Homo sapiens: one gene and its partners. The protein of the gene in region 1 purifies or fractionates together with the protein of each later gene. This does not show direct contact. Each region holds a gene or a part of one and is shown on either strand. Other genes may lie near its edges.

Evidence for each region.
Region 2: the proteins of ANPEP (region 1) and DSC3 purify together in Homo sapiens (affinity purification with mass spectrometry, with the first as the bait; one large-scale study listed by BioGRID). This does not show direct contact.
Region 3: the proteins of ANPEP (region 1) and ZYG11B purify together in Homo sapiens (affinity purification with mass spectrometry, with the first as the bait; one large-scale study listed by BioGRID). This does not show direct contact.
Region 4: the proteins of ANPEP (region 1) and SEPHS1 fractionate together in Homo sapiens (co-fractionation; one large-scale study listed by BioGRID). This does not show direct contact.
Region 5: the proteins of ANPEP (region 1) and PPARA purify together in Homo sapiens (co-immunoprecipitation; one large-scale study listed by IntAct). This does not show direct contact.
Region 6: the proteins of ANPEP (region 1) and XPOT purify together in Homo sapiens (affinity purification with mass spectrometry, with the first as the bait; one large-scale study listed by BioGRID). This does not show direct contact.
Region 7: the proteins of ANPEP (region 1) and PFKP purify together in Homo sapiens (affinity purification with mass spectrometry, with the first as the bait; one large-scale study listed by BioGRID). This does not show direct contact.

What each region holds. Positions count from the first base shown.
Region 1 is NC_000015.10:89,790,750-89,794,858, reverse strand, and holds part of ANPEP (aminopeptidase N precursor), read left to right. Parts: intron 1-1,732; coding exon 1,733-1,824; intron 1,825-2,296; coding exon 2,297-2,407; intron 2,408-2,531; coding exon 2,532-2,699; intron 2,700-3,765; coding exon 3,766-3,906; intron 3,907-4,109. UniProt on the Homo sapiens protein: Broad specificity aminopeptidase which plays a role in the final digestion of peptides generated from hydrolysis of proteins by gastric and pancreatic proteases.
Region 2 is NC_000018.10:31,035,783-31,039,891, reverse strand, and holds part of DSC3 (desmocollin-3 isoform Dsc3a preproprotein), read left to right. Parts: intron 1-4,109. UniProt on the Homo sapiens protein: A component of desmosome cell-cell junctions which are required for positive regulation of cellular adhesion. Required for cell-cell adhesion in the epidermis, as a result required for the maintenance of the dermal cohesion and the dermal barrier function.
Region 3 is NC_000001.11:52,764,092-52,768,200, forward strand, and holds part of ZYG11B (protein zyg-11 homolog B), read left to right. Parts: intron 1-4,109. UniProt on the Homo sapiens protein: Serves as substrate adapter subunit in the E3 ubiquitin ligase complex ZYG11B-CUL2-Elongin BC. Acts to target substrates bearing N-terminal degrons for proteasomal degradation with the first four residues of substrates being the key recognition elements.
Region 4 is NC_000010.11:13,341,185-13,345,293, reverse strand, and holds part of SEPHS1 (selenide, water dikinase 1), read left to right. Parts: intron 1-265; 5' UTR 266-343; coding exon 344-536; intron 537-4,109. UniProt on the Homo sapiens protein: Synthesizes selenophosphate from selenide and ATP.
Region 5 is NC_000022.11:46,219,630-46,223,738, reverse strand, and holds part of PPARA (peroxisome proliferator-activated receptor alpha), read right to left. Parts: intron 3,928-4,109; coding exon 3,725-3,927; intron 1-3,724. UniProt on the Homo sapiens protein: Ligand-activated transcription factor. Key regulator of lipid metabolism. Activated by the endogenous ligand 1-palmitoyl-2-oleoyl-sn-glycerol-3-phosphocholine (16:0/18:1-GPC). Activated by oleylethanolamide, a naturally occurring lipid that regulates satiety.
Region 6 is NC_000012.12:64,431,504-64,435,612, forward strand, and holds part of XPOT (exportin-T), read left to right. Parts: intron 1-34; coding exon 35-320; intron 321-1,910; coding exon 1,911-2,100; intron 2,101-3,003; coding exon 3,004-3,120; intron 3,121-3,290; coding exon 3,291-3,406; intron 3,407-4,109. UniProt on the Homo sapiens protein: Mediates the nuclear export of aminoacylated tRNAs. In the nucleus binds to tRNA and to the GTPase Ran in its active GTP-bound form. Docking of this trimeric complex to the nuclear pore complex (NPC) is mediated through binding to nucleoporins.
Region 7 is NC_000010.11:3,101,439-3,105,547, forward strand, and holds part of PFKP (ATP-dependent 6-phosphofructokinase, platelet type), read left to right. Parts: coding exon 1-116; intron 117-2,340; coding exon 2,341-2,506; intron 2,507-3,170; exon of another isoform or gene 3,171-3,676; coding exon 3,677-3,721; intron 3,722-3,954; coding exon 3,955-4,063; intron 4,064-4,109. UniProt on the Homo sapiens protein: Catalyzes the phosphorylation of D-fructose 6-phosphate to fructose 1,6-bisphosphate by ATP, the first committing step of glycolysis.

The DNA of each region.
Region 1 (4,109 bases):
CAGTTTTTCCAGAGAGTAAGCCTCTGTATTGTGCAATGAGGCTGGTAGTACTCCCATTCTAGGACACAGGAGGGAAGGGAACTGGGGTGCCACCTTTCAGTATGGAAACTTTCACCTCTGACCCTCTTTGCAATCCAGCAACCCTCCCACTGTGGTCTGGTGACCCCACTTTCTGAGCCCCCTGGTTCAATCTCTCTCATGGGGTGGTGAGGGGTGCTGCCCTCTACAAGGAGGGAAGTGGGGACTTGGGGGTTGAATGACTCCTTCTGTAGACTTTGACTTCATCTTCCTGTTTGCAGTCCTTACCTCCCCTCTGTCCCTTGCTGACTTGTCCCTTTAATTTTTTTATTTATTTTTATTTATTTATTTATTTTTGAGACAGAATCCCACTCTGTCACCCAGGCTGGAGCGCAGTGGCCCGATCTTGGCTCACTTCAACCTCCACCTCCCAGATTCAAGCGATTCTCCTGCCTCAGCCTCCTGAGTAGCTGGGATTACAGGCGCCTGCCACCATGCCTGGCTAATTTTTGTATTTTTAGTAGCTTCGGGGTTTCACCACGTTGGCCAGGCTGGTCTCAAACTCCTGACCTCAGGTGATCCGCCCGCCTCAGCCTCCCAAAGTGCTGGGATTACAGGCATGTGCCCCCATACCTGGCCTTGTCCCTTTAATTCTGAGTCTTGTCACAGCAAGTTCCCTTGCTTCTGTCTCCCCTTCTGCAGATTCTCAATTGCAAATTCTCCCACTCTGCCAAGCCTGGTACATCTCCCTTTCTGCGCGTCCCAGCTGCCTAAACTATATTGACCTTGCATCCGCTGTTGCCTCTCCTGTTCTTTGTTATTGGGGGTTTATTCCTTTTACATTTGGACGTGGATCCAGGTGGGCACAGAAATCAACCTGCCATGTCAAACCAGAGTCCACAAAGGATTTTACTAGCATGGGGTGGGGCTTACACTACAATGTTAGGAGAAAAATGCCATGTGAAGAATATGCTAAGTAAAAAAGAAAAAACTATAGAAAAAAGAAGGTGTAAATGCATCAATGTGGAAACTGTAGTTTTGGTGAGCTCCTGGGTGTGTTTTATTTTCTGCATATACTTCTCTGTGTTTCCCAAATTCCCTACAATAAGTCATGGAATTTTTTTTTTTTTTTTTTTTTGAGATGGAGTCTCGCTCTGTTACCCAGGCTGGAGTGCAGTGGCGTGATCACAGCTCACTGTAACCTCTGCCTCCCGGGTTTAAGCGATTCTCCTGCCTCAGCCTCCCAAGTAGCTGGGAATACAGGTGTGCACCACCACACTCGGCTAATTTTTTTGTGGTTTTAGTAGAGACGTGGTTTCACCATGTTGCCCAGGCTGATCTCGAACTCCTGGACTCAGGGGATCCACCCGCCTCAGCCTCTCAAAATGCTGGAATTACAAGTGTGAGCCACTGCGCCCAGCAACTCATGGAATATTTATGATTGTGTAGGGAAAACCCAACATTTTATATTAAGAAATGGTGACCCGTAGACAAAGAATATTGCAACTGACTAAGGCTTTAAGCAGAAAGAAACTCAGCTCAGTTATTTGAACTCTAGACTTCTATGGGCCCCTTTGAGCACTGTTTGGCCTCAGGTGAGGCCCTGACCTCTGACGTCTCTGCCAGCGCCTGCCCCCCAACATCAGAGGCTCTGTGGGGCTCCAGGCAGGTCAGGCATGAGTCTTTGATGAGATTCATATTTTCTTTTCCCCAGAACTACCTGAAGAAGCAGGTCACACCCCTCTTCATTCACTTCAGAAATAATACCAACAACTGGAGGGAGATCCCAGAAAACCTGATGGACCAGTGAGTGGGAGCTCTCATGGGTTTGGAAGTCCTGGGCACCCCGGGGAGTCAAGAGCAACATCCTGGCAGTGTTCTCTGCCGCAGCTCTCAATGCGGGGGCACCAGGCAGGGAGAGACCCCCACCCAGGAGCAGGGAGGTCCTGCCCTGAGGCTCCATGTGGCCTGAGGGCCCATCGGACCTCTTTATACAAAGACCCAAACTGAAACTCTAGCTCACCCCACTGGCTTGAGGTTATACAGTTTCTAGGTGTTGAAACTGGGGCTGGAGCCTGTTCCTGCCCTTCTGGGTCACAGGGCTGCTTTGGGGACCAAGGAACCTCAGGCCCAAGGCACAAAGCACATACAGCGGGGGTCAGAGGGCCAGTTAGGCCACAGAGCCTTAGGCAGGGTGCCGGCCTGGGGTTGTGTGTCAAGAGGTGAATCTTGGCTGGAGTTCGCCAGGTGTGCTAACCGCGTGTCACCCCTGGGGCAGGTACAGCGAGGTTAATGCCATCAGCACCGCCTGCTCCAACGGAGTTCCAGAGTGTGAGGAGATGGTCTCTGGCCTTTTCAAGCAGTGGATGGAGAACCCCAATAATAACCCGTGAGTGTCTCCCCTGCGCCTCCTCTGCCAGTCTTCATCTGCCCCCAACAGCCCCGTCCTCAGCAGAACCCTGTCCCACCCTCCCCGCTGCTGTTCCACACCTGACCTCCCTACCCCACACCAGGATCCACCCCAACCTGCGGTCCACCGTCTACTGCAACGCTATCGCCCAGGGCGGGGAGGAGGAGTGGGACTTCGCCTGGGAGCAGTTCCGAAATGCCACACTGGTCAATGAGGCTGACAAGCTCCGGGCAGCCCTGGCCTGCAGCAAAGAGTTGTGGATCCTGAACAGGTGAGTCTTGGCGCAGGGTGGGACTGCGAGAGCCCTCTCCCCACCTGGAGAACCAGGCAGGCCTCCACACTCCTCGCCAGATCCTTCACGTGACCCCCACAGACCTGTTGAGGTGGAGGCAGTATTTCCAAAGTAACCGGTGCAGACTGGAAGCTTTAATAAGTGATAGAGACAAGATATGGACTCAGGTCTGGGTCCATGTCCTCTGTTCCTAGCTGCTGTGGCCTCTTAGCCTTTACCTGACAACAACTCGTCTTCCCTTCTGTCAAAGGCTCTGGTGTAGCTGGACCTGGGTCTTTTCAAACATCCAGCTGGGCACCCCCTCAAGCCCTTGGATGAGGGTCCCCACCTCCCACCATGTGCCTCATATGCCATTACCTGGATGCAGTAAAGAAGAGCCACCCTTGGGCAGGGTGTGGTGGCTCATACCTGTAATCCCAGCACTTTGGAAGACTGAGGTGGATGGATCACCTGAGGTCAGGAGTTCGAGACCAGCCTGGCCAACATGGAGAAACCCCGTCTCTACTAAAAATACTAAAAATACAAAAAAAAAAAAAAAATAGGCATGGTGGCACATGCCTGTAATCCCAGCTACCCGGGAGGCTGAGGCAGGAGAATCACTTGAACCTGGCAGGCGAAGGTTACAGTAAGCCCAAATCGCTCCACTGCACTCCAGCCTGGGCGACAGAGTGAGACTCCGTCTCGAAAGAAAAGAAAAGAGAAAAGAAAAGAAAAGAAAAGAAGGGCCACCCTCAGTGTCAAAGACGGGAGTGACCACCCACCTGGTGCCAGGGCTTGGGGCGCTAGGACTCCTTCCTTCATTGATTCATTGTCAAATATTTCTATGTCAGGCATGACACTAGCTTAGCCAGTGACCCTGTGACCCTGCTTAGGTGACTCAGTTTTCCATCTATAGAGGGAAGAAGGACCAAGGGGTCCCTCAGCCCCTGGCAGGCCGAGGGGATGTTGAGAGGATGCAGGCATAGGTGATGTGCGTGGGACAGTCCAAGTTCTCTCCTGAGTCACCTGAATTAGCAGTAGCTGAGACAGCATCTGGCCCTCTTAGGTACCTGAGCTACACCCTGAACCCGGACTTAATCCGGAAGCAGGACGCCACCTCTACCATCATCAGCATTACCAACAACGTCATTGGGCAAGGTCTGGTCTGGGACTTTGTCCAGAGCAACTGGAAGAAGCTTTTTAACGAGTGAGTCTGTGGAATGGGTGTCAGGGACAGCGAGCGCCGAGGCTGGGGCCCCGGGGGGTGGCCTGTGCGGGTAAGACACGCCGGGGGCACTAACCAGAAGTGGACAAAAATCAGCCAAGCCTGGGGGCTAGGGTGGGGCAGGAATGGAAAGACAAGCTGGGGTATGGGCCGTCCCTTTTCCCATTTGGAAGGAAAACGTGGCG
Region 2 (4,109 bases), on another chromosome or scaffold:
GCAAGCTTAAAAAAGTCAAAATTATAGTATACGTATATTTAGATTGATGCATTATCAGCTACCTTATTAAAAGGAGATTGTTGATGTTCCTGTTGAGATACAGCTAGATACGGAAGCACGTTCTGAATAAATAAATGTAAGCTCATGCACATTTTTGGATCCTGTTGTAATTCCCATGGCAGTCCTGTACCATATATGGTATCTGTGGTGACCTGTAGTTAATCATACTTTCCGCTGAAAGTATGATAGCTGGAATTCCCATCTTACAATGAGTTTGGGTGGAAACAAATTTATTAGACTCATTTAAGTACTGAGAATGTAGAGCAGTAAATCTTGCAATTTACCTTTGAAGTGGTAAGAATTTGAAAGGTAATATTTCCATTCTGCAGAAGACTTATGGCCACAGGAGAAATGAAGAGTTTAAAATTCTGTAATTATTGTGTTTAATCCAGAAGATCCTCTTCACATTTAAGACATTCCATAAATTTCCATTCTTTTTCTTCTCTACTGAAGTAGGGTGTCATTTTAGAAAGCCTACTTTGTGTATTTACTATAAAATTAAACAACAGCATGAAAGTGAAACAACTGCAGATAACACCTTTAATTTTCGTTCTCTCTTTGGCATTAAATTTTTCCATCAGGATTTAATGATTCGTCTGATAAGGTTTCTATCATGCAATTAATACAATTTGCTTAGTACTATAAAATGCAACAAAACTATTTTGCTTAGGCTGCAGTAGGTAATACTTTATATTATCATCTTTAAAGTTTGTTATATTTTAATTTAAAATATGGGCATTCTTGTATACAGAAGTTATTTTTATTATAAAATATCTTTAAAGGTCATTAGTTCATCATTAATATACTAGTGTCTTTACATTTTTTACTTTATTTTGTTTTCAATAAGGCATCCAAACCTCACAAAAACATAATATCAAATGACTTCATAGTTTCAAGAAACATACTATAACTGAAGTCTATTGAATATTATCCCTTTCAAAAGTTGTATTAATGAATTAACTGTACATTCTTTCTAATAATATCCTATGCAGCAAAGAAAATGAATGAGCTACTGCTATATAGTTAGGAACTTTGAAAATATTAGTAATGTTCCATTTCTTAACCTTGAACGTGAATACCCTAATGTTCATTTTATTATTTATTAAAACACACACATGCTATATGTAATCTTTGGTATTTATAATATATTTTATGAAGAACATTTTTTAAAAAGGAAAGAAATGAGCAATAGAGGGTATCAACTAAACTAAACCTCTTGAGTATAGACAAACCCTACTCTGAGCAAGTCAAAAATAGAAAAGGCATACATAAAACAATATTAGGAATGAAAAGGAAGTATAGTTTTGGAGAGAACAGATGTTAAAAAGTAAAATAACATGAATAGATAATTCCAATTAACTTGAAAATACAGACAAAACAGACAACTTCTTACAAAATACACATAACCAACATTGACTTGAGGAGGTATACAAAATCTAAATAGACCTGTAACCATTAAATAAATTGAATTAGAAGTTAGAGAGCTCCACACACACTTCTTTAGATCCACCAGGCCCAGGTTTGTGATAAGTTATTTCTTTCAGAATTATATGGAACAATGTACTTTATGTAAATTGTTTCAAAGAACAAAAAAATACAGAACTCTTCTTAACTCATTTTATGAGGATCGTATGAAGTTGAAAAATAGTAGCCTGATCTCACTTACAGACAAATATGTGAAATGAGATAAATTGAAAACAAACCAATATATTTGTAAGATATAAATATTTTATGTTCTTGTAAGGCTTATCAGGAAAGGAAACATGGGTTCACATAAGAACATCTATTATTGTATTTTAACATAGTATCAACAGAGAAAATGTATCAACAGAGAAAAACTGATTATTTCAAGAAAGTGGAAACATTTCATTTCAAAAGAATTCATAGAATTCATAGCACACTAAGAATGTAGAGAATGAACTTTTTTTTTTTTTGAGATGGAGTTTTGCTCTGTTCCCCAGGCTGGAGTGCAGGCTGGAGGTTGGCTCACTGCAACCTCCGCCTCCCAGATTCAAGTGATTCTCCTGCCTCAGCTTCCTGAGTAGCTGGGATTACAGGCTTGTGCCACCACAGCCGGCTAATTTTTGTATTTTTAGTAGAGACGAGGTTTCACCATGTTGGTCCGGCATGTCTCGAACTCCTGACCTCATGATCCGCCTGCCTCGGCCTCCCAGAGTGCTGGGATTACAGGCATGAGCCACTGCGCCTGGCCAAGAATGAACTTTCTTAATGTAATGAAACATATCTAACAAAAATGAATGAATGAATGAATGTTACAAGGAAAAAAGAAAAAGACTCATAATTAATGGCAAAACTGTAAAAATATTCTCTTTAAGTTAGAAACAAATCCATAATGGTCAGTACAGGTGTTTCTGTTCAGCATTCCAGAAGAGGTCCTAACAAGCATATCAGATAAAAATTAGCAATAATGAAAGACTTGTAGGATTAAAAGAAAAGAAACCTAGTTGTCATTTTGCCAGCGACAGGATTAACTACATAGAAAATCCAACACTATCTATTAACAGATACTAGAACTAATAAAAGTAAGCAAGTTTCATGGATATAAGCTTAATATTTTTAAATGATTTCTATATATTATCAAGGGACAACTCAAAAATATGTTAAGAAGAATCCCATTCATTACAGCAACAAATCAATGTATCTAAGATAAATGTAACAAAAAATGTGAAAGACCTTTTTAGCAAAAATTGCAAAGCTTTATTGAAAAACAAACATAATTCGGCCGAGTGCGGTGGCTCACGCCTGTAATCCCAGCACTTTGGGAGGCTGAGGCAGACAGATCACGAGGTCAGGAGTTCAAGACCAGCCTGTCCAACATGGTGAAACCCCATCTCTACTAAAAATACAAAAATTAGCTGGGGGTGGTGGCAGGCGCCTGTAATCCCAGCTACTCAGGAGGCTGAGGCAGGAGAATTGCTTGAACCTAGGAGGCAGATGTTTCAGTGAGCTGAGATCGCACCACTGCACTCCAGCCTGGGCCACAGAGCAAGATTCCATCTCAAAAAAAAAAAAGGAAGAAAGAAAGCAAAAAGGAAATATAATTCATAAGTAAGTGAGAATGAATCATGTTCATGGATGGAAAGTCTCAAGAGCCCTAAATGTCAAATCCTCTTTAAATTAATATTTAAAGGAAATGGAATTTCATCAACATCCTAAAATAAATTTTTACAGAACTTGGGGAACTGATCATAAAATTGTTTTGAGAGTCAAAGTCTAAAAAGAGCAAAAATACTACTTTAAAAAAAAAGATTGAGCAATGGGGAACTTTGAGGTTTTTGAGTATCTGGTATACAGAAAATTTTAATAAAGATGTGTCAAATGAAAAAAACAAAATTGAAGCACTCTGTTTATCAGAAGATTTCATAATAAAAGTTAAAAAGCAAACTAAGTAAACCTACAAGAAAAAAATTTAACAAGCACAAACAATAGATAAGTGATTAAAGGAGGAAGAATAGATGATTTACAGAAGATAAATGGCAAATAAACACAAGAAAATACAGTCAATCTCACAACAAATAAATAAAATGCAAATTAAAACAGCCATTAGGTTGGCAACATGGAAAAAGTCATAAAATTATTTGTAAGGGAGGATATGGGAAATAGAGAGATTTAATATGCTAGGGGCATTAATAGAAATTGATATTAGTACTTTGTAGAGCAACTTGGCAATAGCTAATAAAATTGAAGTTGTTCATGTATGGCACAGTAATTTCCGCTTTAGGCACAGCTGTTCATATAGTGTCATTTGTAATAGAAGAAATGAAAAGCAATCTAAATAACCATCAATAGGAGAATGACTAAAAATAAACTGTGGTACATTTATGGAAAAATCTCAAACATACTGTTGGATGAAAAAAGCAAACTGCAAAAGGATGCATATAAACAGATACTACCCAAAACCAGCTTATATTTTATGGGCACAAGCATATACTATATAATGAAAGTATAAAATCCTACTGAGGAAGTATAAATTCTAACTTCTGAAAACTCTATTCCCTGGAGAAGAGTTGGAAATATAATAGAGCATA
Region 3 (4,109 bases), on another chromosome or scaffold:
ATCATTTAGAGCATGTTGATTCTTTATTTTATTTTATTTTATTTTATTTTTGAGATGGAGTCTTGCTCTGTTGCCAGACTGGAGTGCAATGGCACTATCTCGGCTCACTGCAACCTCCGCCTCCCAGGTTCAAGTGATTCTCCTGCCTCAGCCCCCTGAGTAGCTGGGATCACAGGCATGCACCACCATGCCTGGCTAATTTTTTTTTTTTTTTTGTATTTTTAGTAGAGATAGGGTTTCGCCATGTTGACCAGGCTGGTCTCAAACTCCTGACCTCAGGTGATCCACCTGCCTTGGCCTCCCAAAGTGCTGGGATTATAGGTGTAATTTACCACACCCAGCCAAGATTTTTTTAAAATAAGAAAAGAGCATGAGTTCTATAAATCGGTCCTAGGTCTGAGTCCTGGTTCCAACATTAATTTGCTCTTTGACCCTGGATAAGTTACTCTGCAAGTCTAAGATTCCTCATCTGTAAAGTGTTGATAATTATAACTCCCTCACAGGGATTACTGTGAATATTTAAATAAGACAATGAATGCAACATGAATCTTGCTTTCATGGAGCGTATAGTCCAGTGGGAGACACAATTAGGAAGTAAACATATAGAATTACAGCTTGTGCCAGGTTCTCTGAGGGAAAAAGAACACTGTTCTCTTAAGAAGAATAATAAAGGAAGGGAGATGTTTTAACTTGGATGATCAGAGAAAGCTTCTAAAGTGGTGATACTAGACTGAGACCTGAATGACAAGGAGGGAAGTCAGTAACATAAAGGCGGGCTCCTCGGCACTGCCCAGGAGTTCTGGAGTATTTCCCCAGTAAACTAGTGTTCCTAACAGTAGTTTCAGATGTTCTTTGCTCTTCTCAGACTTTCTACCATTTATCTTAGGAAGAAAATTGAAGCCATCAGATAAAATTCCCTTAACTCCATGTAAACCACTGCTTCCAATTTTTCTGAGTGATCTTTTTTTTTTTTTTAATAGAGATGGAGTCGCACTATGTTGGCCAGGTTGGTCTTGAACCCCTGGCCTCAAGGAGTCCTCCTGCCTTGGCCTCCCAAAGTGCTAGGATTATAGGCGTGAGCCACCACATCCAGCCTATCTTTTTTTTTAATTAAAAAAAATTATTTTTTGAGACAAGGTCTGATTCTGTTTCCCAGGCTGGAGTGTAGTGGCATGATCATAGCTCACTGCAGCCTTGAACTCCTGGACTCAAGCAGTCCTCCTGCCTCAGCCTCCTAAGTAGCTGAGATCACAGGTGCATGCCACCAACATCTGACTAATTTTTAAAAATTTGTAATGGAGATGATGTCTTTCTATGTTGTGCAGGCTGGTCTTGAACCCCTGGGCTCAAAGCAGTCCTCCCACCTCAGCCTCCCAATTACAGGAATGAGCCACCACACTCAGTTTTTTGTTTTTTGTTTTTTGTTTTTTCCCAGTCAGGGTCTTACTCTGTCACCCAAGCTAGAGTGCAATCATAGCTTACTATAATCTCAAACTCCTGGGCTCAAGCGACCCTTCGACCTCAGCCTCCCGACTAGCTAGCTAGGACTACAGGTATGTACCACCATGCCCGACTAATTAAAATTTTTTGTTGTTGGGATGGAGTCTTGCAATGTTGCCCAGGCTGGTCTCAAACTCCTGGCCTCGGGTAATCCTCTTGTCTCATCCTCCCAAAGTACTGGGATTATAAGCATGAGCCACTGTGCCTGCTCATTATTTCTTTAAGTACTTTTTCAGCCACACTGTCTTTCTCCTGTCCTTGAGATATTCCAGTGACACAAATATAGCTTTAGGTTTTTGGTTTTGGTTTTTTTCCCATTCTGTTCTTGTTATTTAAATTAGGTAATTTATGTTGTTTTATCTTCTAGTTCACCAGTCTTTTTTCTCTGTTCTCTATTTTACTGTTGACCTCAAGCATTATTATATTTTTCACTTCTAAAATTTTTATTTGATTCTTCTTTATATCTTCTCTTGCCTTGCTGAGTCTGTTTTCATTTTTTTCTTTTTTTCCTTATTAAATTTTTTTTAAATTTTTTTTTTTTTTTTGAGATGGAGAATCTTGCTGTGTCGCCCAGGCTGGAGTGCAGTGGTGCGATCTTGGCTCACTGCAACCCCTGTCTCCCAGGTTCAAGTGATTCTTCTGTCTCAACCTCCTGGGTAGCTGGGACTACAGGCGTGTGCCACCATGCCCAGCTAATTTTTGTATTTTTAGTAGAGATGGGGTTTCGTCATGTTGGTCAGGCTGGTCGCGAACTCCTGACCTCATGATCTGCCTGCCTTGGCCTCCCAAAGTGCCACCGCGCCTGGTCTGTTACTCATTTTTTTTCAAGCATATTTGTTTACTTTTGAAAATTTAATTGCATTTTTTTATGGCTCCTTTAAAATCGTTGTCAAATAATTTTAACATTTCTGTTACCTTACTGTTGGCATATATTGATTATCTCTTTTTGAGTTTGAAGTCTTACTGGTTCTTAGTATGATTCAGAGTAATTTTTTATTGAAACCAGGACATTTTAGGTGATATGAGACTTTTCTGTTTTAGTTTGAGTCACTGACGTCACTCCAGCAGTGGAAGGTAGGAGCACTGCCTTGTTACTGCCAGATTGGGGTTAATGTTCTTTGTAAAAATTTTTATAGGCCAGGCACAGTGGCTCACGCCTGTAATCCCAGCACTTTGGGAGGCCGAGGCGGGCGGATCACGAGGTCAGGAGATCAAGACCATCCTGGCTAACACGGTGAAACCCCGTCTCTACTAAAAATACAAAAAATTAGCTGGGCATGGCAGCGTGTGCCTGTAGTCCCAGCTACTCCAGAGGCTGAGGCGGGAGAATGGTGTGAACCCGGGAGGTAGAGCTTGCAGTGAGCCCAGATCGCGCCACTGCACTCCAGCCTGGGTGAAAAGCGAGACTCCGTCTCAAAAAAAAAAAAATTATTTTATTTTATTTATTTTATGTTATTTTATTTTATGTTATTTTTATTTTTTATGTTATTTTATGTTATATTATTTTGTTATGTTTTATGTTGTTATTTTATTTTATTTTGTTATTTTATGTTGTTTTGTTATTTTATTTTATGTTATGTTATTTTGTTACGTTATGTTATTTTATTTTATTTTGTTATTTTATGTTATTTTATTTTGTTATTTTATTTTATGTTGTTATTTTATGTTATTTTATTTTGTTATTTTATTTTATGTTATGTTGTTATTTTATTTTATGTTATGTTATATTTGAGGTGGAGTTTCGCTCTTGTTGCCCAAGCCGGAGTGCAATGGTGCGATCTCAACTCACTGCAACCTCCGTCGCCTGGGATCAAGCGATTCCCCTGCTTCAGCCTCCCAAGTAGCTGAGATTACAGGCAGGCACCATCAGGCCTGGCTAATTTTTTGTGTTTTAGTAGAGACGGGGTTTCACCATGTTGGCCAAGATGGTCTCGATCTCCTGACCTTGTGATCCATCCGCCTCGGCCTCCCAAAGTGCTGGGATTACAGGTGTGAGCCACTATGCCCAGCCAGATTAGGGTTAATGTTCTTTCTGGTTCCCCACTTGGCTTCTCTTGACACCCAAGGTGCAGGGCTATGCAGAGGTTGGAATTCTGACTCCCCACTAGGATTCTATTGATACTTCCCTAAATGAGAGGGGTATGGGTATGTCATTTCTGCTTCCCAGTTGGCTTCTACTGACACCATGTTGGGAGGAGGTGGCCTCATTACTGTTGGGCAGTTGTGAAAGTCCTGACTTTCCACTAGACTTCCTATGACAGCACCCCAGCAGGGAAGCAGGTAGAGAACTTCATCGCTGCTTGATGAGTGTTGAAGTTCAGGCTCCCCAGAAGGTATCTACTAACATCGTGGTGGGGGATAGTTCTTACTACCCAGCAGGAATGAAAGTCCTTGCTCTCTACTCAGACTTCTCTAACACCTCCCCTGTGGGCAGATTGGGGCAAGTAATTACAGCCTGGCAGGGGTAGAAATCTAGGCCCCTATTGGCATTTGCTGGCATGGGTGGAGCTGCAGTTTTTTCTGTCGTGTTTGGCTGAAGTAGAGCAGTTACTGTCTACTAGCTGTTTCCTGTCTTACTAGTTGCTGCTTTCCTGGTACGTTGGCTAGAG
Region 4 (4,109 bases), on another chromosome or scaffold:
GTGTCATGTGAACCTGCAGGCTGGCCCTCTTGCCACAGTTAAAACCACAGTCCAGATGTCAGATTTTACATAGATGTCTGTGCTGACGCAGTCCCGTTATGAAAAGATCTATTTTGTCATATGCACTGCTGTGGTGAATATAAGTGGTCTTGATGATTTCAGCCCTTGTCACATTGACTTTTCGCTGTCATGTATTCACTTGATTCGCTGGCAGGTCCCAGTGGGAATTCTTTTCATGGCATCTTTGTGTTTTGGTGACACCCAGGTGGATCCATAAAGAACCCAGCCAACCCGCAGAGGGAGGGGAGGGGCTGAGCTGTGAGGAGAGCGGGGCCCAAGAACCATGTCTACGCGGGAGTCCTTTAACCCGGAAAGTTACGAATTGGACAAAAGCTTCCGGCTAACCAGATTCACTGAACTGAAGGGCACAGGCTGCAAAGTGCCCCAAGATGTCCTGCAAAAATTGCTGGAATCTTTACAGGAGAACCACTTCCAAGAAGATGAGCAGTTTCTGGGAGCCGTTATGCCAAGGCTTGGTAGGTAACCCAGTGTTTCTTTGATGGTCTGCGATCCAATCAGTGAGTCAAAAACTGGATTTCTCGCCTCCCATGTTGCCTATTTATTTTTTATTATTACTTTTTTTGCTTTTATAGATTTGAGGAATACACATGCAGTTTTGTTACATGAATATATTACATAATGGTGAAGACTAGGCTTTTAGTGTAGCCATCACCCAAATAGTGTACATCGTACCCCCTTTATTTTTTTTTAATTTTTGTGGGAAGGATTAGAAGAGCAATCAATGTTATGATTGCTATGTTATGTTCTTGTAACTTATGTAGAGAAAGTACTTGAAACGCATCAAGAGGGGTACTCTTGACAGTTTTTAAATCATGGAGTATGCAATTGAGATTGTTATTACAGTAAAAACTTTTTAATTTTTATTTTCAATTTAATTGAATTGAATTTTCTGTTAGCTGAAGATTAAGCAGAAATACTTTATTCCCTTTTCCTAAAAGGACTCCTAAAATGCTCACATTCCCTTCATTGCCCTAGGAAAGGCGGTTCCAGCCTTAGGGTTCTTGTGCTGTACTTGGATGGCAGTGACTGTGTCAGGAGGGCATTGGGGTTCTCTGCAGGGTGCATCGGGCGAAAAGCGTGTTACGGTGAGGAGGTGGGACTGCTCCAGACCCAGGACTGGATGGATCTGTTCTTGACCCCAGGATGTCATCTGGAACCAGGGCAATGTCTTTTTCTTTACTACATTCCTGATGTCATGAGTGATTTCACTTTTCCCAAACACAGAGCTTAGAAACAAATTCTGGGCTCCTGGGATATTGTTTATTCATGTTTCTTGTGCAGTTTATTAAGTACACAGTACAAGACTGTGATCACTTTTCTTGTGTTCGACGCATAGTTTCGGAGGTTTGGATGTTCGATAATTACTGTGTGACTTGATCAGTTTTCTTCCTTTTTTTTTGAAATGGATTCTCACTCTGTCACCCAGGCTGGAGTGCAGTGGCGTGATCTTGGCTCACTGCAACCTCTGCCTCCTGGGTTCATGCGATTCTTCTGCCTCAGCCTCTTGAGTAGCTGGGATTATAGGCCCCTGCCACATGCCCGGCTAATTTTTGTATTTTTAGTAGAGATGGGAGTTTTACCATGTTGGCCAGGCTGTTCTCGAACTCCTGACCTCAGGTGATCTGCCTGCCTCAGCCTCCCAAAGTGCTGGGATTACAGGTGTAAGCCACCACACCCAGCCAAGGTTTTCATTTCATTTGTTTTTGCCCATTATTTGGTAAGGTTCATTGGTTATGAGCCTGGGGTCTCCTTTACTCCCAGATAGAGAAAGCAGATAAAAGCAGACTTGCTTTTGTTGGAAAGGAAGAAATGTTACACCCCAGTCGCTGGTGACCTGCAGGACTTTGAGGAGCTCAGTTTGAAAACAGTTCCTGCCGTCCAGCTGATGGCCAAGCTGTGGAGAAATACCATGTGAGCGAGCTGGGTTTGATGTTGGCTTATTTGTCGAGAAATGAGAATATACTGAGGAAGCTGTTAGATAACTGTCAAGAAAAAAAGCTATTAATACTTAATGCTCAAAAACCAATGAAATTAAAACATTACGGCATAAAGTAAGAATTACTATTTATAACTTCCTCTGGCACAGTTACTTACTAGTCACTCATATTATGTCATGAATGTCACCCAGCCCTCCTGAGCCTCAGCTTCCTAATCTATAAAATAATAATTACTGTTTGGGGTTGGGTGCGGTGGCTCACACCTGTAATCCCAGCACTTTGGGAGGTCAAGATGGGCAGATCACTCAAGGTCAGGAGTTCAAGACCAGCCTGGGCAAAATGGTGAAACCCATCTCTACTAAAAATACAAAAGTTACCTGGGCTTGCTGGTGTACACCTGTAGTTTCAGCTACTCGGGAGGCTGAGGTGGGAGGATCCCTTGAGCCCGGGAGGCAGAGGCTACAGTGAGCTGAGGTCACACCACTGTACTGCGGCCTGGGAGACAGAGTGAGACCCTGCCTCAAAAAAAAAAAAAAGATTACTGTTTTGCATTGTTGTACCAAAAATGTGTGTAGGTGTGCCATGTATGTCTGTACTTACATATATAATACATGTATGTGTATACCCTCTGTACACAAGTATATATGGTATATATGTATGGGTGTTTTTGACCTTTTTTTTGTTGTTGTTGAGATGAAGTCTCACTGTGTCGCCCAGGCTGGAGTGCAGTGGCACAATCTCAGCTCACTGCAACCTCCGCTTCCCAGGTTCAAGCAGTGATCTCCTGCCTCTGCCTCCCAAGTAGCTGGGACTACAGGCGCATGCCACCACACCCAGCTAAATTTTTTTGTGTTTTTAGTAGAGACGGGGTTTCAAGGTGTTGGCCAGGCTGGTCTCAAGCTCCTGAGCTCAGGTTATCCACCCACCTCAGCCTCCCAAAGTGCTGGGATTACAGGCGTGAGCCACCGCACCCGGCTGTATGTTTATTTTTTTAACTTTTTTTTTTTTTGAGACGGAGTCTCGCTCTGTCGCCCAGGCTGGAGTGCAGTGGCGCGATCTCCGCTCATTGCAAGCTCCGCCTCCCAGGTTCACGCCATCCTCCTGCCTCAGCCTCCCGAGTAGCTGGGACTACAGGCGCCCGCCACCATGCCTGGCTAATTTTTTGTATTTTTAGTAGAGACGGGGTTTCACAGTGGTCTCGATCTCCTGACCTCGTGATCCGCCTGCCTCGGCCTCCCAAAGTGCTGGGATTACAGGCGTGAGACACCGCGCCCCGCCATCTTTTTTTTTTTTTTTTCCTTGAGATAGAGTCTCACTCCATCACCCAGGCTTGAGTACAGTGGTGCAATCTCAGCTCACTGCAACCTCTGCCTCCCGGGTTCAAGGCCCTCCCAGGCCTGATTCTCATGCCTCAGCCTCCCTCCAAGTAGCTGGAATGACAGACGTGCACCACCACACCCAGCTAATTTTTTTGTATTTTTAATAGAGTTAGGGTTTCACTATGTTGGTCAGGCTGGTCTGGAACTCCTGACTCTAAGTGATCTGCCCACCTCGGCCTCCCAAAGTGCTGGGATTAAAGGCATGAGCCCCCGCGCCCGGCCTGTTTATGTTTTTAACTTTTTTCTAATTGAATGTCATGTTTTCTGGCTTCAAAAATGGTGTTAATTGAAGGGTTAACCAAAACAGCTTTTAAATGTACACACGATTACTAAATGTATCCTAATTAAAGAAATGGTAAAAGAAGTGTGCCTTAGAACCAGAGACATTTGTTGCCTGGTGCCTAGGAGCTATCAAGTAATGATTGCTGCTGCTGGCGGGGGCGGTGCAGGGGTTGGGGGTGGGTAGTGGTGTGATAACTTAGGTTGTCTTTCTGATGGAGGATGTCAGTATTGCTGAAAACCTTCCAGCAAGTTTGCCCATTGCCTCCTGGTCATTAAACCTAAACTGTTCTGTCTAGTATTTAAGGCTTCCCCGACCCTGTGGCATTTTCCTCTGTTCCCAGTTACCATCCCTCTGGACCGTCCCTCTGTCTTTCCATTTCAAACGCTAGTTTTTCAAGGCCTGTGGGCATCTCAGGCTCACCCCTTCTCT
Region 5 (4,109 bases), on another chromosome or scaffold:
AGCTCAGGTAATCCGCCCTCCTCTGCCTCCCACAGTGCTGGGATTACAGGCATAAGCATGAGCAACCACGCCTGGCCCTCTTTTTTTTTTTTTTTTGAGATGGAGTCTCGCTCTGTCACCCAGGCTGGAGTGCAGTGGTGTGATCTCGGCTCACTGCAACCTCTGCCTTCCAGGTTCAAGCAATTCTCCTGCCTCAGCCTCCTGGGTAGTTGGGATTACAGGTGCCCACGACCATGCCTAGCTAATTTTTGTATTTTTAGTAGAGACGGGGTTTCACCATATTGGTCAGGCTGGTCTCCAACTCCTGACCTCAGGTGATCCACCTGCCTCAGCCTCCCAAAGTGCTGGGATTACAGGCATGAGCCACCGCGCCTGGCCTATTATTTATTTCTTTAAGGCCAAAATGCAAACAGATTCCCGCCTGCTAGTTGCTGCATGTGACCCTCAGCTGAGGGTGATGGGGTTCCTAGAGCTTGGTGGTCTCCAAGGGGAGGTGCAGGAGGACTCCAGGAGTCCCATTCGCACCCCATGGTGGGGGCAGGTTGTTAGGAAGAAAGACAACTTAACTCTGCTTCGAATTTTTTTTAGAGAGTCTCGCTTTGTCGCCTAGGCTGGAGTGCAGTGGCGCGATCGTGGCTCGCTGCAGCCTTGAACTCCTGGCCTCAAGGCATCCTCCTCAACCTCCCAAGTCGCGGGGACTATAGGCATGTGCCACCATGCCTGGATAATGTTTTTATTTTTTGTAGAGATGTGGTCTTGCCATGTTGCCCAGGTTGGTTTTGAACTCCTGGGCTCAAGCCATCCTCCCATCTCAGCTTCCCAAGTACCTGGGACCACAGGCACATGCCACCATGCCCAGCTAGTTTTTTAAAAAATCATTTTTTGTAGAGACGAGGTCTCCTTGTGTTGCCTGGTCTCAAACTCTTGGATTGCCTCAAGTGATCCTCCCGCCTCAGCCTCCCAAAGTGCTGGGATTACAGTGTGAGCCACTGTGCCCAGCCTGCTTTCAATTCTGAAATCCAAGGGAGAAATATAAGCTGGCAAACAAAAGTTTTAGCCATCCCAATTTTGGGCTGTACTAATCATATCCAGGATAGAGACTCGAAGCTAAAAGTTACCTTTTCTTTCACTCTCGTAATCCAGGAAAGTTCTAATTGGGACAAGCCTCTGGAGCTGCCTAGTGTGGGTGTCTGCTGGAAACTTCTAAAATGTCTCGGCCTATTTAATTGGAGAATTCACTGAAGAATTAAAGGACTCAGTAAAGAAGAGGTTTGGTTTGTTCATGAAAGTAAGTAGCTTGTGAAATGCTTTATTTTCCTGTGACTAAAATTCCACCTTGTAATTCCCAATAAGGATTGCTTCAAGCTATTTAATACAAATTAAACCTGTTTCACCATGCTCATAGGAAAATGTCAAAGTATCTTCATTCACCAACTGAGGGCTGGCTCTTCTTTGAAGGTAGCTCTGAGATTTGTTTTGTAATGGAGACAAAGACTTATTTAACTGTTGGGGAGGGGGAAGGAGGACTTAGGCCAGGCAGGCGGGGATGTGGGGGACGAACCATGAGGGGCAATTTGGCTGCCTCTGAAAAGGTCCAGAGCTACCTTAAAAGACAGGCTTTCTATAACAAGTGGTCCTTTCTTTTCCTTTCTTTTTTTTTTTGAGACAGAGTCTCACTCTGTTGCCCAAGCTGGAGTGCAGTGGTGCGATCTCAGCTCACTGCAACCTCCAGCTCCCAGGTTCAAGCAATTCTCCTGCCTCAGCCTCCCAAGTAGCTGGGATTACAGGCAACCGCTACCATGCCCAGCTAATTTTTTGTATTTTTAATAGAGATGGGGTTTCACCATGTTGGCCAGGGTGGTCTCAAACTCCTGACCTCAAGTGATCCACCCACCTCAGCCTCCCAAAGTGCTGGGATTACAGACATGAGCCACCGCGCCCAGACACAGCTGGCTTTGTCGCCCAGGCTGGAAGTGCAGTGGCACGATCTCGGCTCACTGCAAGCTCTGCCTCCTGGGTTCACGCCATTCTCCTGCCTCAGCTTCCCAAGTAGCTGAGACTACAGGCGCCCGCCACCACGCCCGGCTAATTTTTTGTATTTTTAGTGGAGATGGTGTTTCACCATGTTAGCCAGGATGGTCTTGATCTCCTGACCTCGTGATCCGCCTGTCTTGGCCTCCCAAAGTGCTGGGATGACAGGCGTGAGCCACCACGCCTGGCTTACAAGTGGCCCTTTCTAAGCCCCAAGATGTCACTGTCTTTTCACTGAAGGCGGAAAAAGAATGTAGGCATGTTTGTCTGAGAGGGAGGGAGTAGTTTTAGGAGAAAGGACCAAGAGCACATTTTGAGTGGGAAGTAAGTGGTTTCCTTTTCTAGCCTTATGATATGGTTTGGCTCTGTGTCCCCACCCAAATCTCATGGTGAACTGTAATCCCCAGTGGTGGAGGTGAGGCCTGGCGGGAGGGACTGGATCATGGGGGTGATCCTTCATGAATGGTTTAGCACCATCCTCTTGGTGCTACTCTAGTGATAGCGTTCTCACAAGATCTGATGGGTGAAAAGTGTGTGTCTCTTGTTTTTGCTCCTGCCATGCAAGACGCCTACTCCCACTTCACCTTCTGCTATGAGTCAAATTCCCTGAGGCCTCCCCAGAAGCAGAAGCTTCCTGTACAGCCTTGTGGGCCACGAGCCAATTAAACCTCTTTTCTTTATAAATTACCAGGTCTCAGGGATTTCTTTATAGCAGACTAATACACCTCAAAGTAGGGATTTATTTTATTATTCTATTTTTTTTTTGAGATAGGGTCTCGATCTGTCACCCAGGCTGGAGTGCAGTGGCATGATCTCAGCTTGCTGTAACCTCTGCCTCCCGGGTTGAAGCAATTCTCATGCCTAAGCCACCCAAGTAGCTGGAATTACAGGTGTGTGCCACCCTGCTCAGCTAATTTTTGTATCTTTAGTAGAGTTGGGGTTTCTCCATGTTGGCCAGGCTGGTATCAAACTCCTGGACTCAAGCAATCTGCCCACCTTGGCCTCCCCAGAGTGCCAGGATTACAGGCATGACCCATCTTGCCTGGTCAGTTTTTTTTTTTTTAAATCCAGTTAATGCTGGGTGCCATGACTCACACCTGTAATGCCAGTGCTTTGGGAGGCCGAGGTGGGAAGATCACTTGAGGCCAGGAGTTTGAGACCAGCCTGGGAAACATCTCATCTCTACCAAAAAACAAAAACAAAACAAAACAACAACAACATCAAACATAGCCAGGTGTGGTGGTGCACACCTGTAGTCCCAGCTCCTTGGGAGGCTGAGGCAGGAGGATTGCTTGAGCCCAGGAGTTCAAGGCTGCAGTGAACTATGATTGCACCACTGCATTCCAGCCTGGGCAACAGAGCAAGAACCTATCTCTATTTAAGAAAAAATGCTCCTAAGAAATCATCTTAGTACTTGGTAAGCTATTAAGGTTTTTTTTAAGTGTATTAATTACATAGCCAGTATAATAACTTAGTTGCTAAGAGCTTTGAGGTGGCTCCAAGCAAGAAGAAAGGAGTTGTTGTTAAGCTACAGCTCAGAGTCTCAGAATGAACTGTTTCCATCTTCGCTGTCCTTTGCTTAACTGTGGGATAAATATAATTTTCTCAACATTCAACACATGTGTCCTTAATCGTCCTCTACGACACTGGTTCCATGTTGCCAAGAGAACCCAGAACAGCCGCAAACACCTACTGGATTGTTACTGGCCTTTCCTGAGAGGATGACCCGGGCTTTGACCTTGTTCATGTTGAAGTTCTTCAAGTAGGCCTCGTAGATTCTCTTGGCCAGAGATTTGAGATCTGCAGTTTCAGAATCTTCTATGTCATGTTCACAGGTAAGAATTTCTGCTTTCAGTTTTGCTTTCTCAGATCTTGGCATTCGTCCAAAACGAATCGCTAGGGTTTGGAGGGGGAAACACAGGCATGAGCAGTGAGGTCATGACTGCGCGGACAGGGCTGGACGAGGGGCTCCCCCAGGACTTTAAACCAGGAATGAAAATTCACAGGCAGTTCAGACCCATCCTTCATTACTATTCGGCTTTCCACTATGGAGAGATGAAAAACTCAAACTCCATACA
Region 6 (4,109 bases), on another chromosome or scaffold:
GTTGCATCTGATTGCCTGATTTTTGCTTATATAGTCGAACCAGTAAAGCTTTCAGCAACAAACAGACTGTGAAACAATGTGGCTGTTCCGAAGTTTATCTGGACTGTTTACAGACATTCTTGCCAGCCCTCAGTTGTCCCTTACAAAAGGATATTCTCAGAAGTGGAGTCCGTACTTTCCTTCATCGAATGATTATTTGCCTGGAGGAAGAAGTTCTTCCGTTCATTCCATCTGCTTCAGAACATATGCTCAAAGATTGTGAAGCAAAAGATCTCCAGGAGTTCATTCCTCTTATCAACCAGATTACGGCCAAATTCAAGGTACCGCAAACTTTCAGAGCTCTGAAAATCTCTTGAAGATCAGATGTATTTATCTTCAGACATGTTTCGGATTTTGCCCTTGGGTTTCTTTTTTTTTGCTTTTAATGAATTACTTAAGAGCCTCATGGATCATATGTATTTTTATCATCTGTGGTGTCTGGCACACTGCCTGATACATAGGTCATGCTTAATAGATGTTTGAATATAAACAGACCCTAACCGCTTTGTGTAGCAAAAGAAAACTAGTCTGCTGTTTTAGAAGAGCATATAAAACCAGTAAACTGAGTACTAAATAAGCACCATAATTCAGGTACCCAAGCAAGAGTTAAAAGTAATTCAATGTATTAAAGTCAGTTTTCTGTAGGACATTTAAGCTGGCTAATAAAAGTGGTTAATACTTACATAGTACCTCTTTTTTCCTTTTTTCTTTTTTTTTTAAATGGAGATAGTCTCACTCTGTCACATAGGCTGGAGTGCAGTGGCGCGGTCACAACTCACTGCAACCTCCACCTCCCAGGTTCAAGCGATTCTTGTGCCTCAGCCTCCTGAGTAGCTGGAACTATAGGTGCATGCACCACACCACGCTAATATTTTGTACTTTTAGTAGAGACAGCGTTTCCCCATGTTGACCAGGCTAATCTCGAACTCCTGACCTCAAGTGATCCTCCTGCCTCGGCCTCCATAAGTGCTAGGATTACAGGCATAAACCTGGCCACTTACATAGTACTTTCTATGTTCAAAATCTGTTCTAAGCATTTTTTGTACATTTACTCATTTGATCTTCATACCTACCCTAGAAGACAGGGATTATATGTTATAGTTGAGGAAACTGAGGCATGGAGAAGTGAAGGGATTTGCCCAAGAGTTCATAAAACTCAGGAGTTCATTTGTAAGCAAGTATTGAGAACATGCTATTAAACAATGTTTTTTACCTTTGTTCAAAAACAAGAAAAACCCTAAGAGTTTAATCATATAATTCATTTTTTGAGAATTTAATTTTGAAAATATTCCATGGCAATATTGTGAAATATGTCTGACTATTATTTTAACCTAAATCTTAAGCTGTAGGAAAGGGTTTAAATTTAATGATCTTGAGTCTTTTAGTAATATTTTTTAAGGTTTTTTCCCCACCTTGAAATGGAGTCTTGCTGTGTTGCCCAGGCTGGAGTGCAGTGGTATGATCTTGACTCACTGCAACCTCCACCTCTCAGGTTCAAGCAGTTCCCCTGCGTCAGCCTCCTGAGTAGCTTGGACTGGGACTACAGGCGTGCGCCACTACACCCAGCTAATTTTTGTATTTTTAGTAGAGATGGGGTTTCACCATGTTGGGCAGACTGGCCTTGAACTCCTGACCTCAGGTGACTCACCCGCCTTAGCCTCCCAAAGTGCTGGGATTACAGGTGTGAGCCACTGCGTCTGGCCTAGTAATGTTTAGGTTATATAGATTTTATCTTAAAATTGATATTTGCTAACTGAATTATGTACGCATGCATCCTAAATAGAAAAGAAAGGCTTTATGTAAAATAGTTTTTTCTAAGTTGTATGTTAATATTGTTACTAATTTCTGAAGTAATGATTGTTTATCTTCAGATACAGGTATCCCCGTTTTTACAACAGATGTTCATGCCCCTGCTTCATGCAATTTTTGAAGTGCTGCTCCGGCCAGCAGAAGAAAATGACCAGTCTGCTGCTTTAGAGAAGCAGATGTTGCGGAGGAGTTACTTTGCTTTCCTGCAAACAGTCACAGGCAGTGGGATGAGCGAAGTTATAGCAAATCAAGGTGGGAACACATGCCATATCTAATTTGTCTGCTTAAGTCTGTGTCACTGTTGTACATCTATATGACCAAGAGCAAACTGAAGTAAATACAGAAATTTTGAAGTTTGCTATCCCATGGGAAGACAGTTTATTGTTTTCAGGGTGGGAATTGATCACTTTTATGTAAAGCACCTAAAATTAATTTGTATTCTGTTCCTTTTTCTTTCTGCAATATTTTTTTAATTTGGTTCTTTAGCAATATAAATAACATGGTTACTTACCAGAATTGACCTGACAATTGAGTCTTTATGGCAAATTTGCCATTTTGAAATATAAAATAAATGGAGCTGTACAGATTTGTGTAGAGAATTCTGTATAGGAAATTTAGGGAACAAGATACCAGGGGCAAACTGATTTTTCATTGTTTTATTTTTTAATTTGATTTGATTTGTGAGATAGGGTCTCACTCTCTTGCCCAGGCTGTAGTGCAGTGGTGTCATCACGACTCATTGCAACCTCCACCTCCTGGGCTATCCTCCCATCTCTACCTCCTGAGTAGCCAGGACCATTGGCAGTTGCCACAATGCTGGGCTTATTTTTTGTAGAGATGGGATCTCACCACGTTGCCCAGGCTGGTTAAACTCCTGGGCTCAAGCAATCTTCCTCGGCCTTACAAAGGGCTGGAATTACAGACAGGAGCCACCGCGCCCAGCTGATTTTTCAGTGTTTAATGTTTAAACTTTAGGTGCCCAGTTAATAAAAATCAAGGGATTTTGGCAATTCTGTAAATGCTTTTTTCCCCCTTCATTTTTCCCATTCCACCTGTAAATGATTTTTGACTTGTTAATGTATATGAAAAGAGAACTTCAGGTTGCTTTCCTAGTTAATTTTGGAAATTGCTTAAACTAAAGGTTTTTCTCCTCAGGTGCAGAGAATGTAGAAAGAGTGTTGGTTACTGTTATCCAAGGAGCAGTTGAATATCCAGATCCAATTGCACAGAAAACATGTTTTATCATCCTCTCAAAGTTGGTAGAACTCTGGGGTAAGATAATTTTATTTCTTAACCTTCATTTCCCAAACTCTTTCATAAAACTCTTAGACATAATGGAACATAGCCCTAACAGAGAGAGAAACTGGGAGTTGGTTTTCCCTGGTGATGAATTAATTGACTTACTTTTATATATAAGATGAAAATTTGAATTCTCTTGACAGGAGGTAAAGATGGACCAGTGGGATTTGCTGATTTTGTTTATAAGCACATTGTCCCCGCATGTTTCCTAGCACCTTTAAAACAAACCTTTGACCTGGCAGATGCACAAACAGTATTGGTAAGCACCTAGGAATCTTTGTTTACCTTGTGTAGCTCATATATTCCCAATTTCTTCTTTAATGCCAGGTTGATTATATTATGTTTCATTGATTTTTTTTTTAACTTAGTGATTTCAGATCAGGGTTCTTTTTTTAAAGATTTATGATACCTTCTGGAGTTTTTATGAATTCTTATTGAATCCCAATGCTACTGCTGAATTTTACAAATTCTACTCCTTCGACTTTAACACCTGACTTTTTCTAGGACCATGAAAGGGCATATGTCACAAACATTCTTTCAAGCTTGAGTATTAGTTTCCTACTACTACTTTAATTCTAAAACTTGTACCTAGTGGTTTTCCCTAATCATTAAGAGCATGAAATGGCAACTTGATCCTCCTTGTATGATAGTTTCCCCAAATCTAATTTTCACAATACTTAATGTCAATTTCCGCTTTCTCACTTTCCCACAACCTGGTAAAAGCTAGATTTCATAATTGTAATTTACTACGTTAAAACAACAGTTTGTATTTTTCTGTTTTTTTTCTTTTTTTACTTCAACCCACTTAGTCCATCTGCCTGTTACCTTTCCTTCCTCTATCCCTTCTCTGGAGTTAAATATTTCTCTGGAAATATTTATTTGAATTTCCCTGGCAGTGGCCAGGGTAGTAAAGAGAAGAGCTGGATCACTAAACAAGAATTGAATATATAGAAATTCTTAAA
Region 7 (4,109 bases), on another chromosome or scaffold:
CCTGCTGCAGCGCGGCATCACCAACCTGTGTGTGATCGGCGGGGACGGGAGCCTCACCGGGGCCAACCTCTTCCGGAAGGAGTGGAGTGGGCTGCTGGAGGAGCTGGCCAGGAACGGTGAGTGGACACCTGCTCCTCTGTCCTGCGGGTTTTCGCCCTGTTTCAGAGCTTTGGAACCGACAGGTTTCCCTCTTCACTGTGGCAGAAGTACCTCTTCTCACAGATCTTACAGGTCACCATCTCAGGACTTTTTAGGATCTCAAAAAACAACAGCAATGATCGTAAGAATGCTAGTAATTTAACCTTACCATGTGCCAGGCACCCTTCGACCTTTCACACAGATAGCTTTATGGAATCCTCACGACAGCCATCTAAGCCAGGTTTTAGATCATCCCATTTACAGATGAGGAATCAAACGGCCACTCAGCCGTGGGGCGAGCCGGGTCCCCAGCAGCCTGGGACACTAGCATCCGCCTTTCAGCCCTCACACTGTGTCCCTCCAGCTCGCTGGGGTCCTTTAAAACTGAAGTTGGGCCGGGCGCGGTGGCTCACGCCTGTAATCCCAGCACTTTGGGAGGCCGAGGCGGGCGGATCACGAGGTCAGGAGATCGAGACCATCCCGGCTAAAACGGTGAAACCCCGTCTCTACTAAAAATACAAAAAATTAGCCGGGCGTAGTGGCGGGCGCCTGTAGTCCCAGCTACTTGGGAGGCTGAGGCAGGAGAATGGCGTGAACCCGGGAGGCGGAGCTTGCAGTGAGCCGAGGTCCCGCCACTGCACTCCAGCCTGGGCGACAGAGCGAGACTCTGTCTCAAAAAAAAAAAAAAAAAAAAAAACTGAAGTTGCCACAGGACTTTAATTTATTTAGACGATAAATCTCTGCCAATACATCATCCAGTACCAACTTTGGCACTACTTAGGAAAGCGTTTCTGAGAGCCCTGTGTGTATGTGGTTTATTTTTGTTTTGTTTGATTGTTTGATTTTGTTTGTTTTGAGACAGAGTCTTTCTCCATTGCCCAGGCTGGAGTGCAGTGGCACGATCTCGGCTCACTGCAACATCTGCCTCCTGGGTTCAAGCAATTCTCCTGCCTCAGCCTCCCAAGCAGCTGGGATTACAGGCATGCGCCACCACACCCAGCTTTTTTAAAATTTTTTTATTTATTTTTTATTTTTAGTAGAGATAGGGTTTCGCCATGTTGGCCAGGCTGGTCTCGAACTCCTGACCTCAGGTCATCCACCCGCTTCGGCCTCCCAAAGTGTAGTTTTTCTCCCTTGAAGCGGTTATGTAATTTCAGTGCAATATTAAATATGACCAGGGAAGCATATTGTTTAACAGCAACTCGATGAGAGGCGGCATTGAGGCAAAGCAGCTGTCCCCAGGTTTGTGAACATCCTCGTAGGGGATGGAGAAGGCTGCCCGTTGGAAGCAGCCAGGCCTCACGGTTCCCGCTTGTCCACCTCATCCCGTCTGGCACAGCACAGTGAGTGCACAGACCGGGACAGTGGCCACAAGTCCGGGCCCAAGCTTGCCCCTGGCCCTTCAGTGGTTCCGATTCCCTTTATGCAGAACTGCCCAGCCCAGGTCTGTCCTGAGTGCGAGGCAGATGCTCACCCACGATCCAGCTTCCCACAGATGCATGAGAAATCAGTGTGAAGATGGCCTAGTGTCTTAGATTCTTAATTCCGTAATTGTAACGTATCCTGTTCAAAGCCGTGTCATTCTCTGAAGCTGTTGCCAGGAAGTACTGAGATGTTTGTTTACCGATTGCAAATGTGGATCCTTTCTTTTATTTTTCTAATCCACTGCTCTTGTCTAAGTGCCAGGTGACAGAGTCCATTGTGTGTAACTGCTGCCAGCTTTGTCTGGCTTCTCTTTCCTTAACTATGCAGAATCCGGTTGCCTTGAGTTCGGAGAAAATAAAGAATCGGCCAGGGCAGTGGCTCACACCTATAATCCCAGCACTTTGGAAGGCCAAGGCAGAAGGACCACTTGAGCCCAGGAATTTAAGACCCGCCTGGGCAACATAGAGTGTGGGTCTACAAAAAAAATTAAGAAATCAGCCAGGCATAGTTCTAGCTTCTCAGGAGACTGAGGCAGAAGGATCGCCTGAGCCCAGGAGTTCAAGGCTGCAGTGGGCTATGATGGTGCCACTGCACTCCAGCCTGGTCAACAGTGAGACCCTGTCTCAGAAAAATGATAATAAAGAAATGATACCAATAACAAAGAGTTTAGAATGGTTGATTTCTCTACCCATGGCCATTCTGCCTCACCCCTAGTGGGGCACCCCCCGAACGCGCCATGGTTACGGCGATGAGACGTGCTGTTTGCTCCCCGCGCAGGCCAGATCGATAAGGAGGCCGTGCAGAAGTACGCCTACCTCAACGTGGTGGGCATGGTGGGCTCCATCGACAATGATTTCTGCGGCACCGACATGACCATCGGCACGGACTCCGCCCTGCACAGGATCATCGAGGTCGTCGACGCCATCATGACCACGGCCCAGAGGTAAAGCGCTCAGAGGAACCGGCGGGAGGCCAGTGGGGCCCGACGTGTGCCCAGCTCAGACGTTACCACGGGCTCTAGAACATTCTGCAGATTGGGTGTCCTGGTGCTGGTCTCGTAACTTGACTTTTAGGAGCTATTGCCAGAACATTGTTCTCTGGTCTACTTTTCATTTTTAATTTTAAAACATTCCTTGTTTTTAACCTGATGATAGAAAACAGTTTATTAGAATTTGGAAGGAAGAAACAAAGTAATTATCCTCTAAATGTCCTACCCAAACATCTCCAGAAGGAGTGGCAAGCAGGAAACTGTTGTGTGGATTTTCCACACTACTCATTAGAAACGCAGCCAGCGATGTCCTGCCCTGTGTAACCTACGGATTCACGAAGTGTCGTGGGGGCCACAGCGTTTGATCCGAGGTGCTCTAGGCTCAGCAGGTTATCACTAAAGACTGTGGGGCGCACCGTACAATTTCTGAAGCAATTTGCATGAAAACCATGTGGAATGGTAAATAGAATAAGTGTCTCCCCTTTAAGGACGAGGTGCTCGAGACTGGGAGAGTGCCCGAATCCAGTCCCCAGCATGGCGCCTCCCAGTCCTCTGTGTGCGTGTCCTGTTCCCAGTGACGCCTCACTGGACATTCTCAGTGCGTGGGCGTGAACCCCACAGTTGGTGGAAAATCACCGAGTTGGAAGGCTGCTCGGAGCAGTTGGATTTTTCCATTCCCTGGGAAGACCCACAGTCTCTGGGCATTAAGCACTTAGTGAGTCTGGCACTCACTTGTTTCCGTGGGAGAGATCCAGCCGTGGCTGTCGACAGCAGCTGCCGACTGTGCCCAATAGAGAAGGTATCTGGGAAAGAGCCCAGCACGGGGCCGGGGAGTGTGAGTGTGTCCTGGCACAGGCAGGCAGAAGGTGTCCAACGTGCAACTGGAGAGCGCAGAGGTGGCTCAAGTCCCCTTCCTCGCAGGAGTCTGGAAGGCTACTGCATAGCGTTTGCCTTAGTAGAAAATGGACCATTTTTGAAGCCTAGGTCCCTGCAGGCCTCCTGGCTAACTCGGCTGTCAAAGCCCCTTTTCTCTGCTTTCTGAGCTGTTTCCAGGACTGAGTGGGTGCTCCCTCTGTTTCTCTGCTTTCTGAGCTGTGTCCGGGGCTCCCTCTGTTTCTCTTCCAGCCACCAGAGGACCTTCGTTCTGGAGGTGATGGGACGACACTGTGGGTACGTACCTGCGGTGGGTCCGGTGGACGCGGTTCAGGTGGGGGACCCTCAGCATCATCTCCCTGAGGCTGCACCCCACATCCTGAATGCTCCCGTGGAAAGTCCTGAAGGGGCCGGCATCCCGCTTCATACCTGGCGTTAGGTCTGCACGTCTGTCGCTGAGCGGGGTGCCTGGGCTGCCCTCGTGGGAAGGATCCTTCTGGGGTGTTGATGCTGTTGCCTTGTCCACATAGGTACCTGGCCCTGGTGAGTGCCTTGGCCTGCGGTGCGGACTGGGTGTTCCTTCCAGAATCTCCACCAGAGGAAGGCTGGGAGGAGCAGATGTGTGTCAAACTCTCGGAGGTAATGCGGGTCCCGTGGCCGTTGATAGCGGGCGATGCTGGCTGCA